Regions from separate parts of the Homo sapiens genome. Here region 2 is linked to region 1. A link means that fine-mapping ties the variant in region 1 to the plasma level of a protein whose gene starts in the linked region. Region 1 holds a variant in brackets. A gene starts in the other region. All regions are shown on their reverse strands.

What was found. PIP is the posterior inclusion probability: the model's chance that the variant is causal. Protein levels are from antibody-based Olink assays in UK Biobank. Linkage for the fine-mapping came from a reference panel and not from the study's own genotypes, which makes the PIPs less certain.
Region 2: GAL starts here. The variant in region 1 is fine-mapped to the plasma level of the GAL protein (UK Biobank, PIP above 0.99).

Annotation. Positions count from the first base shown.
Region 1 is chr2:224,057,796-224,062,180 of GRCh38, reverse strand. No RefSeq gene overlaps it. Among named protein-coding and RNA genes, the nearest start is that of SERPINE2, 21 kb to the right of the region's middle. The variant T/C (reference allele first, on the strand shown) is at 1,777.
Region 2 is chr11:68,680,416-68,684,767 of GRCh38, reverse strand. It overlaps GAL (galanin and GMAP prepropeptide), which reads right to left and starts at 224. Exons shown (of 6, transcript NM_015973.5): 1 at 36-224. The region is part of intron 2 of LOC107984343 (a long non-coding RNA gene); the gene reads left to right. RefSeq lists enhancers at 1-153, 830-1,505.

The DNA.
Region 1 (4,385 bases):
TTGCAGTCTTTAATAGTCTCATGAAGGACAGCATATCAAAGTATCTTTGGGGATGCTTTGCTTCCAACACAGAAATCAACTGTAACTAAATTAAGAAAAAGAAAAACTTATTGAAAGGATACAGGCTCTCATAATCATAAAAGGAAAAGCTTGAAACACACACACACACACACACACACACACACACACGCAGATTTCGGAAAGGGCTAAGAACAGAGTAGCTTCAGGTACAAAGGTGTCAGAAACTATTTAATGAGTCACCTCAAATTGCCATTGTCATGAAGAACAATCTCCAGCTGTTTTCCGTCTTTTTGCGCCATATTGCTTAAGATTCCAATTGCAGGAGGAGAGTATCTACTTGGCCTAACTTGCGTCAGCTACTCAATCTTGCCCAAGGGAGGGCTGGGCCACCTTGATTGGCAGTACCCCCAGGACTGCTTCCAATGGAATCAAGTGTGTGGGAGAGAAGGAGGTAATTCCCAAAGCAACATCAAGGTTCTGCAACTTGAAGAATGAAAAATGAGCACAGGAAAATGAAGCAATAGAAACCTCCCACAGAAGCCCATGCTCAAAAGACTGGCAAACCAAATAAAACCTGAAGTCAAGACCCCATCTCCCATTCCTCTACTATCTTCCACTCTATGTGGAGACTTGTAAATAGCCTTAAAAAACACTCCATGGACAGTGCCTGGGGTGGAGGTGGTGGATAAAATATTTTAATGACAATTTAAAAGGAGAGAGCGTATTAATTTTCAACTTAATTGGACACTAACTCTCATCATCCAGAAGCAGGGTGAAAAAGAGAATAGAGGTTATGGTGAAGTGAAAGTGAACACAATGCAAGGCAAAGAAGAAAGAAATAAAGTCACTGTCAGAAAAAAAAACCATGATAATTATTACTTCCCTATGAAACTACACAGACTAGATGGACTCAGAATGGGTGTTTGCCTGTGTTAATGTCACTGCATTCTATGCCTTAAATGTACCTTCAAGGATCCCTAGGACAATCCCAATTTTTGTACCTTCTGGTCTGGGTCTCTTTGGCCTATTTCTATACTCTCTTCTTTGTATCTAACCTGGCTCTTTCCTCTTATAACTTATTTAATTTATTCTTGTGCTATTATTGGCAATGGTGGAGAATAACATGTCACAACCCTTCCTATAAATATCTTCTCATATGCTTGCAGTTCGTAAACCTATTCTCAATCCTGCTATGAACCAAGTAGTATGATTCAACAACCTTCTCCCACCAGTCCTATGTACTGAGCCTTTAACAAGGTTTTCTGAAAAGAGAGGTGTCAATTTCACTGTGTTCCCAGAAGTGACAGGGGTCTATTTTTTCTCCATTCAGAGTGGAAATAATAAAAAGAGGAAGAATCACAGTGAATTGATTTGGGGGTTGATCACCAACCCTTCCTTAAAAATGTGTACATGTGAATGTCCTTTCACACAAATGCAATCACAGAATTTCCCCGGAGCACATTAGACCTGGTGATATGTTAGACTCTCAGCATACCAGATTGGTGGGGAAAAGGCTAAAGTCATAACAAAAAGGAACCAGAGCAAGGCCAGGGACAGCTCCTACCCCAGTTAACCAGTTATGAAGCATAACAATATCCGGAAATAGTTATATGTGCTGGACCTTATGCCAAGTGTTATATATGAATGATCTCATCTAATTCTCTTACCCACTTTTGCTTTAGAGTTATTTTTCTTACCTACAGATGAAGAAACTAGGGTTCATAAGGTGAAGAAATGCATTCAGGATTACACTTG[T/C]AGGAAGTATCAGAGCCAGAATTGACACCAGGTCATCTGGTTCCAAGGCTTAGGCTGGAAATCACCATATTCTCAAGGGCCATGATACCCGATGTTGGAGCTGGAGAGGGAGTGCCCAGTCTGGTAGGCAGCTGCCTAGGGGATCTGGAGGAAGGTGGAAGACCAGGATCCCAGGAGGGTATGGGGGGTTCCAGTTAAGCCTGCCAGGGCTTGGGCCGGCCTCACATCTCAGCAGGAAACTATATGCCAAGCAGTATCAGAGCCTGACTGCCTTAGGCATGCCCATTGTAAAGACTGGAGACCTGTTACCTGCTGGGCCATTCAGGCAGAGTTTGTCAGCCAATAAGAGGCAAGCCTGGCAACACATCCACAGCTCCCAAACCCTAGGGCCCTGCTCAGTAACTGGCCCAGAGCCTAGATTAAAAAAAAAAAAATTACCAAAGAGTCCCTGAGCCTGCTGTGTACTTCCTACATGAGCTACAGCACCACTCACAACCAACACTACGTCCCAATCACTATGTCCAGCCAGGTTCCTGATGGGTCCTCCATTTCCTGCTGGACCAAAACCCTAAAAATATCCCCAGTGTCTTCCTACCCCTTTCTCTCTCCAGTGAGCTGAATCCTGGCCCTCAACCCGCAGTCATTTGTCAGTAATACTGGTTCATTCCAAATGCACCTTCCCTGGATTCAAAATAGTACTTTCCATTGATGCTGGCTGCCATGACCACTCAGAGATCTTACCACCCTTAGCCATCAAACCGGACCACTTGGCTACTGTTACCAGCCCAGATTAAACCCCATCTCACTCGGTGATTAAGGTGGCTGGCTACCTCCCCTGGGCAGGCCCTGAAAAGGTCACTCCCAATTCTATCAGTCCCAGTGACCCAGTCCAATATGACTCAGTTTACTCCCCCTCTCTACCAGTTTGTGGGTTTGGGAGTTTCCAAATGCCTGAAGGCCAAGCTCGAACATGTCCTCATAACATAGGAAACAAAGCAGTGTGCAGTTTTATTGGCTGGCTCTACATAGTATGGGGCAGCCTATCATGAGCAGCCACACAGGTTCACAGTAGTCACCTGCATGACTGGTCATCAGCAGACAGGCTAGCATGAGCTGCAGCAGAAGCCCATCTGACTCTCACTATCAGAGCTAAGGATCACAGGAACTAATATGCCTCACTCCCTGTTGCATACCCTCCCACTTCTCAGCATCTATACTGGATGTTTGCTTATTGAGGACCTGTCTCCCCTTGCCTCTGCCCCAGGTGATATGGTTTGGCTGTGTCCCCACCCAAATCTCACCTTGAATTGTAGCTCCCACTATTCCCATGTGTTGTGGGAGGGACCCAGTGGGAGGTAATTAAATCATGGGGACGGGTCTTTCCCATGCAATTCTTGTGATAGTGAGTAAGTTTCACGAGATCTGATGGTTTTATAAAGGGGAGTTTCCCTGCACAAGTTCTCTTCTCTTGCGTGCCGGCATGTGAGACTTGCCTTTCACCTTCCACCATGATTGTGAGACCTCCCCAGCCACGTGGAACTGTGAGTTCATTAAACCTCTTTCTTTTGTAAATAGTGCAGTCTCAGATGTGTCTTTTTCAGCAGCATGAAAATATACCAGGTTTCCCCTGAATATCCACTAGCTTTTCCCACTTTGAAGCTGCATCTCTTCTCTGCTCTTGTTTTTGGAAAATACTGTTATAAAAGCCTTTTTTGTGGCTGTCCCCATGGACCATCTCTGTGTGGGTGGCACTGCTCCATTCAGGCACCAGGCTGTTAAAGCTGATGGCTTCACTCATTCTGGGCAACACTGGACCACTCCAGGCAACCCTCACAATCTCAACCTGGCTGCTGCCCAGTAGCTCTCAGAAACTTGAATGAAAGAAGCTGTTATTCCAGAGGTCTATGATGATTTCTCTGGAGCCAGGGCTATCAATGGGCTGAAAATGGGCTTCAGGAGTCTATAAACAAGAGTCACCTGTACTAGTAAAATAATTTTTAGATGTGCATTTTTCTGAAAAGAGACTGCATAGCTGTCAGGATATTCTCTCTCTCACCTGCTCTTCCTAAGTCCTAGCAGTATTGTCCCCTGGGATATTTGGCCGCTGGCATTCCTCCACCATCATTCTGATCCAAACTCTGAGAACTGCTACCACAGCTTCCCAGTGGCCTTCTGGCCTATGTTCTTGCCTGCCCCCTACAATCAGACTCGGACACTACAGGAAGCAGGCAAATTAAAACACAAATTTGATTGGGAAGGCCTATTAACTTGAGTGTGTTCTTGTCTTCCACATCCATCCATCCACTGAAATATTTTGCTTTTGCTGCCTAATTTCCTCCCTTTTGCTCTGCCCTCTAATGCAGTTCTGCTTTTTCGGCCCAGTTCCCATGATTGTTGTGATACTGAATCAAGATGAATGTACGGAGAGGTGGTACAAAGAGATGTGAGGAAAAGGGGAGGCAATGGTAGAACCGTGGCCATTCAGCCTGAAAGCTGGGGAGATACTAAAGGTAAAAGAGGGACAGGGGAATGAAGTGAGAGTCGTACAGCTGCCATGGGATTTGAGAGGAGAAAAATGGTGTTTTTAAAGAAGCACTGCTAAGTGTTAT
Region 2 (4,352 bases), not on the chromosome of region 1:
CCGGGGGCGCAGGGTCGGCCCGGCGCCAGTAGTACCTTGAGCTGCGGCTGCGCCCGGGTTCGGAGCGTCGGGGTCCGGGTGCGGTGGCGGGTCTGGGCGGCAGGTCCGGGCGTCGGGCCGGGTCGGGTGGGCTCTGGCGGCCTGGGGCGCTCACCGCATGGCGCGGCCGGCAGCAGGGGCAGAAGGCGCGGGCCGGGTCCCTCCACGTGTCCGCCGCCCGGTGTGGCCGCCGCCACCGCCGCCGCTGCTATATATGCGGCGCACCCGGGAGCCGCCCGGAGTCGCGTCACCGGCTCAGCGCCCGCCTCCTGCACCCTCGCCGAGCCCCGAGGGCGACGGGAGTGACCCGAGCTCGGGTCCTCTGGGCCATCATAGGCGGGTGCGGCGGAGAGCCCCCCCTCATCCCGCGGGAGAGACTCCCCCAAATCTGCAGAGAGAACCCCAAACCCTGTGGGAGAGACCCTAATCCCGAAAGACAGAGCCCAATCGCCCCGCGGGAGAGCCCCCAGACCCGTGGCCCAAGTCATCGCTGTGGCGTCAACCCCACTGCTCCCCCCGGGGTCCCAGCCCCAGAGCAAGCCTGACCCCCCACAACGTCCCACGCCTGCGGTCTCCCTGCAGCTTCTCCTCCCAGCCCCTACCGCTGCAAAAGCCAGCTGAGCTCCGCAGCACTGGAGACCCCAGAGGGTGACGGGCAGGGACGACTCCTCAGTCCGAGCCAGCCCCAGCTGGGAGGTCATGGGGTACCCGGGGAATGGCGGGCAACACTTGGCCCTGCGCCCTGGCCGGCTTGTGCTGGGGCTGGAGCGAAGGTTCAGGCCTCGGGAGCCGTCGATGGCGGGGAGGGCAGGCGTTCCCGGCTCCCTGTGCCCAGCGACCTCCCTCCTGTTTCACTAAAGGGGGGCTGTGGATCTCAGGGTCTGCTTGGCCATCCCATTGTGGGAGCTGCGGGACCGTCGAGCATCCACAGGCACCAGCTCAGAAGCTCGGCCTCTCAGTGCCTCCCCTGGCTGCCTGGTCCAGTTGTAAGAGGGAGCTTTAAGCAGGTCCAGCCATTGGGCAACTGGTTAGGTCCAGAGGGAGAGCAGCCCAGACTCCCAGAGGCCGCCAAGGGGTGGGCGGTGGGCAGAGCAGCAGCAAGAGGCTGTCCTTGTGCCCAAGGCAAAGACATCCCACAGGAACAAGGCCCTCCTTGGCTCCTCCACAAACCCTTCCTGAGCTGGGGCCAAGTCCCGAAACAACCCAGGAGAGAACCCAAGCCTAGGCTGTTCCTTCACCCCATTCCCAGGCATCAGGGGAGCACAGGATCCCAGGCATCACACTTGTACAGTGTGGCACCTCCGGGCTTCCGAAGAGCACGGGGTCATCTGCTGAAAACTCGCCTGACCTCCCCTCCCACTGGCCAGACACCACCCAAGTCCTCAACAGCAGCAGCTGGGTTAGGATCTCCCCACCCACTGGGCTCAATATCAGATGGGTTGATGTCACATCTGTGGGTTGATGTCCACAGGGCACAGGACGAATGATGATCATGACAGTGTCATCTTACCTGTCCTCTACACTTTAGTCTTGGGAACCTTTGCACAGACAGCTACAGGCTGCCCCCAGGAGAGATCCGTCTGCCTCCACGTGGCTGGGGAAGGACAACTGGGCTTTCAAGAACTCTGGCGAAGGCCAGCGGCTGCTGGAGAAGGTGCAGGGCTGCAGCCTGGTGGCTGAGTGTCTGCTGTGGTTTATGGGAGGAAGAGGAGGAGACAGGACTTGGGGAGGGGTCTTAGGAACAGACTCCTGGCACGACAGTGGTGAGGGGTGGGGTGTTCCCAAGGGCACAGTTTGACTTCTGGTCATCCCTATTTCTTGCAGCCTGGGGAGAGGAGAGTCAGGCACAGGGGACCCTAACTAGGACTCACAGGCTGATTTCGGAGCCCACAGTAAACCCTGAAGTGGTTTCCTGCCGGGAGTGGGGGCGTGGGAGACAGTGAGTCGCCATGAGAGTCTGGGCCAGCCGTGGGCAGAAGGACAGCCGAGAGGCGGAGGAGCAGAGGGCACGTTCCTGTGACTCTGCAGAGAAGTGACAATGATGTCCTCTCATGCCCCATGTCCTTGTGTCTAGATGACATCAGGGAGTGGGCAGGGGCTGGGCTCATGGGTGCCTCTTGGCTACCTGAGAAATACTGCAACCTTTGGCCCCCGGTGGTAGTGGGAGCCCTGCTACCATCCCAGAGCTCTTTCTTGCTTTCTGCTGAGAACAAATCCAGCCCAGTGCATAGCACATCTTAGTCAATTCCAGCCTTCTCCTTTCTTCCACGTTAGGCCCCCTTCCAAATCCTGCCAGAGCTTGACTACACTTATTTTCTCTATTTACTTTGTCACAGAGGCTCTTAGTCTGTTTAAAGGAGCACAAACTCTAAACCTAAATCCTTGAGATGGATTCGAAAAGAGACTCAAAGTCCATCCCTTAGTCATGGGCTGGAATTTGAGGTACATTAAACTTTCAGCTGTCTTCATTTGGGCCTATGTACTCTTTTTGTTTCCTTTTTTGCTTTCAAAGAAACTTCAGACTGGGCGCAGTGGCTCACGCTTGTAATCCCAGCATTTTGGGAGGCTGAGGTGAGTAGATAGATCACTTGAGCCCTGGAGTCCAAGACCAGCTGGGGCAACATAGCAAGGCCTCATCTCTACTAAAAATAAATAAATAAATATTTTTTAAAAATCAGCCAAGCATGATGGCACGTGCCTGTAGTCCCAGCTACTCAGCTCAGGAGGCTGAGGTGGGAGGATCACCTGAGCCCAGGAGGTTGAGGCTACAGTGAGCCACGATCAAGCCTGCACTCCAGCATAGGCAACAGAGCAAGTCTCTGTCAAGAAAGAAAGAAGGAGGGAGGGAGGGAGAGAGAGAGAGAGAGAGAGAGAAGGGAAGAAGAAGAAAGAAGAAGAAGAAGGAGGAGGACGAGGAGGAGAAGGAGAAGAAGAAAAGAGAAGGAAGGAAAGTGAGGAAAGAGAAAGGAAAAAAAGAAAAATAAATTTCAGGCCGGGTGCGGTGGCTCATGCCTGTAATCCCAGCACTTTGGGAGGCCAAGGCGGGTGGATCACAAGGTCAGGAGATCGAGACCATCCTGGCTAACATGGTGAAACCCCGTCTCTACCAAAAATACAAAAAATTAGCCGGGAGTGGTGGCAGGCGCCTGTGGTCCCAGCTATTTGGGAGGCTGAGGCAGGAGAATGGCGTGAACCCAGGAGGCGGAGCTTGCAGTGAGCCTAGATCGTGCCACTGCACTCCAGCCTGGGTGACAGAGCGAGACTCCGTCTCGAAAAACAAAAAACAAAAAACAAACGAAAAAGAAATTTCAGGGTAGGTTATCTGGTCAGAGCCTCCTTATTAAAAAGACATTAAGCAACTGGAAACAAATCTTCACATGTATTTTGAATTCATTTAAGAAAGCTCCATTGAATAATTAGACACATGTATTCAAAATAAACATGCCCATGCCTGATTCCTCCAGGTCCCTAAGTTCTTTTTCCACGTGGGATGACACCCACCGTCTTGCTTCCCGCTTAGTCTGGGTGAGTGGGTCTCGGTATAAACCCTGGCTGGGACCCTGGCCCGGAAGTGCGGTGACCATGGGAAGGCTACAGACAAGCAAGGCAGTGGCCTGAAGGCGTGCTGGGGTTTCCTGAGGTCGGCAGATTCCTTCAGACAAATGAGGCCAGCACACCTGGGATGACAGACACCTGCCTCCCGGCACAGACTGTGCTGGAACCACAGCCAGTGTGCTAATGGCTCTTTGCTCAGTAATGACCCAATGGCAGTCATTGTCAACCTGTCATCTTGAAGACAGCCCAGTGTGCAGCAGACAAAGTGGGTCACCATTAGAGTAATCGAAATCAAGCAGAAAGCCTGATGTCCCCCGCTGCCTTCGAGCCAGCCCATCTTCCTTAGAAGCGCTGTCCACCACCAGGAAAAACCACCCTGAAGCTGAGAACTCAAGCAAGGGTCAAGGGTCACCTGGGCCATGCCCACTGCACGGGAGCTCAACCGTCCATTGCCTGGCAGTGGAGCTGCAGTGGTGAAATCAGCAGCAGGGTCCCTGCCCTTGCGGAGTTAGACCCTCACGGAGACCCATTACAGTTGGCCCCTCTGTATCTGTGAGTTCCCTGGCTGTGGGTTCAACCCACTATGGACTGGGTCCTTGTAGGTAGGCCTAGGATGGGTTTCTCTGTACGAATACGTACAGACTTTTTTCCTTGTCATTATTTCCTAAACAATACGGTATAACAACTATTCATGTAGCATTTACATTATACTCAGTATTATAAGTAATCTAGAGATGATTTAAAGCATGTGGGAGGGC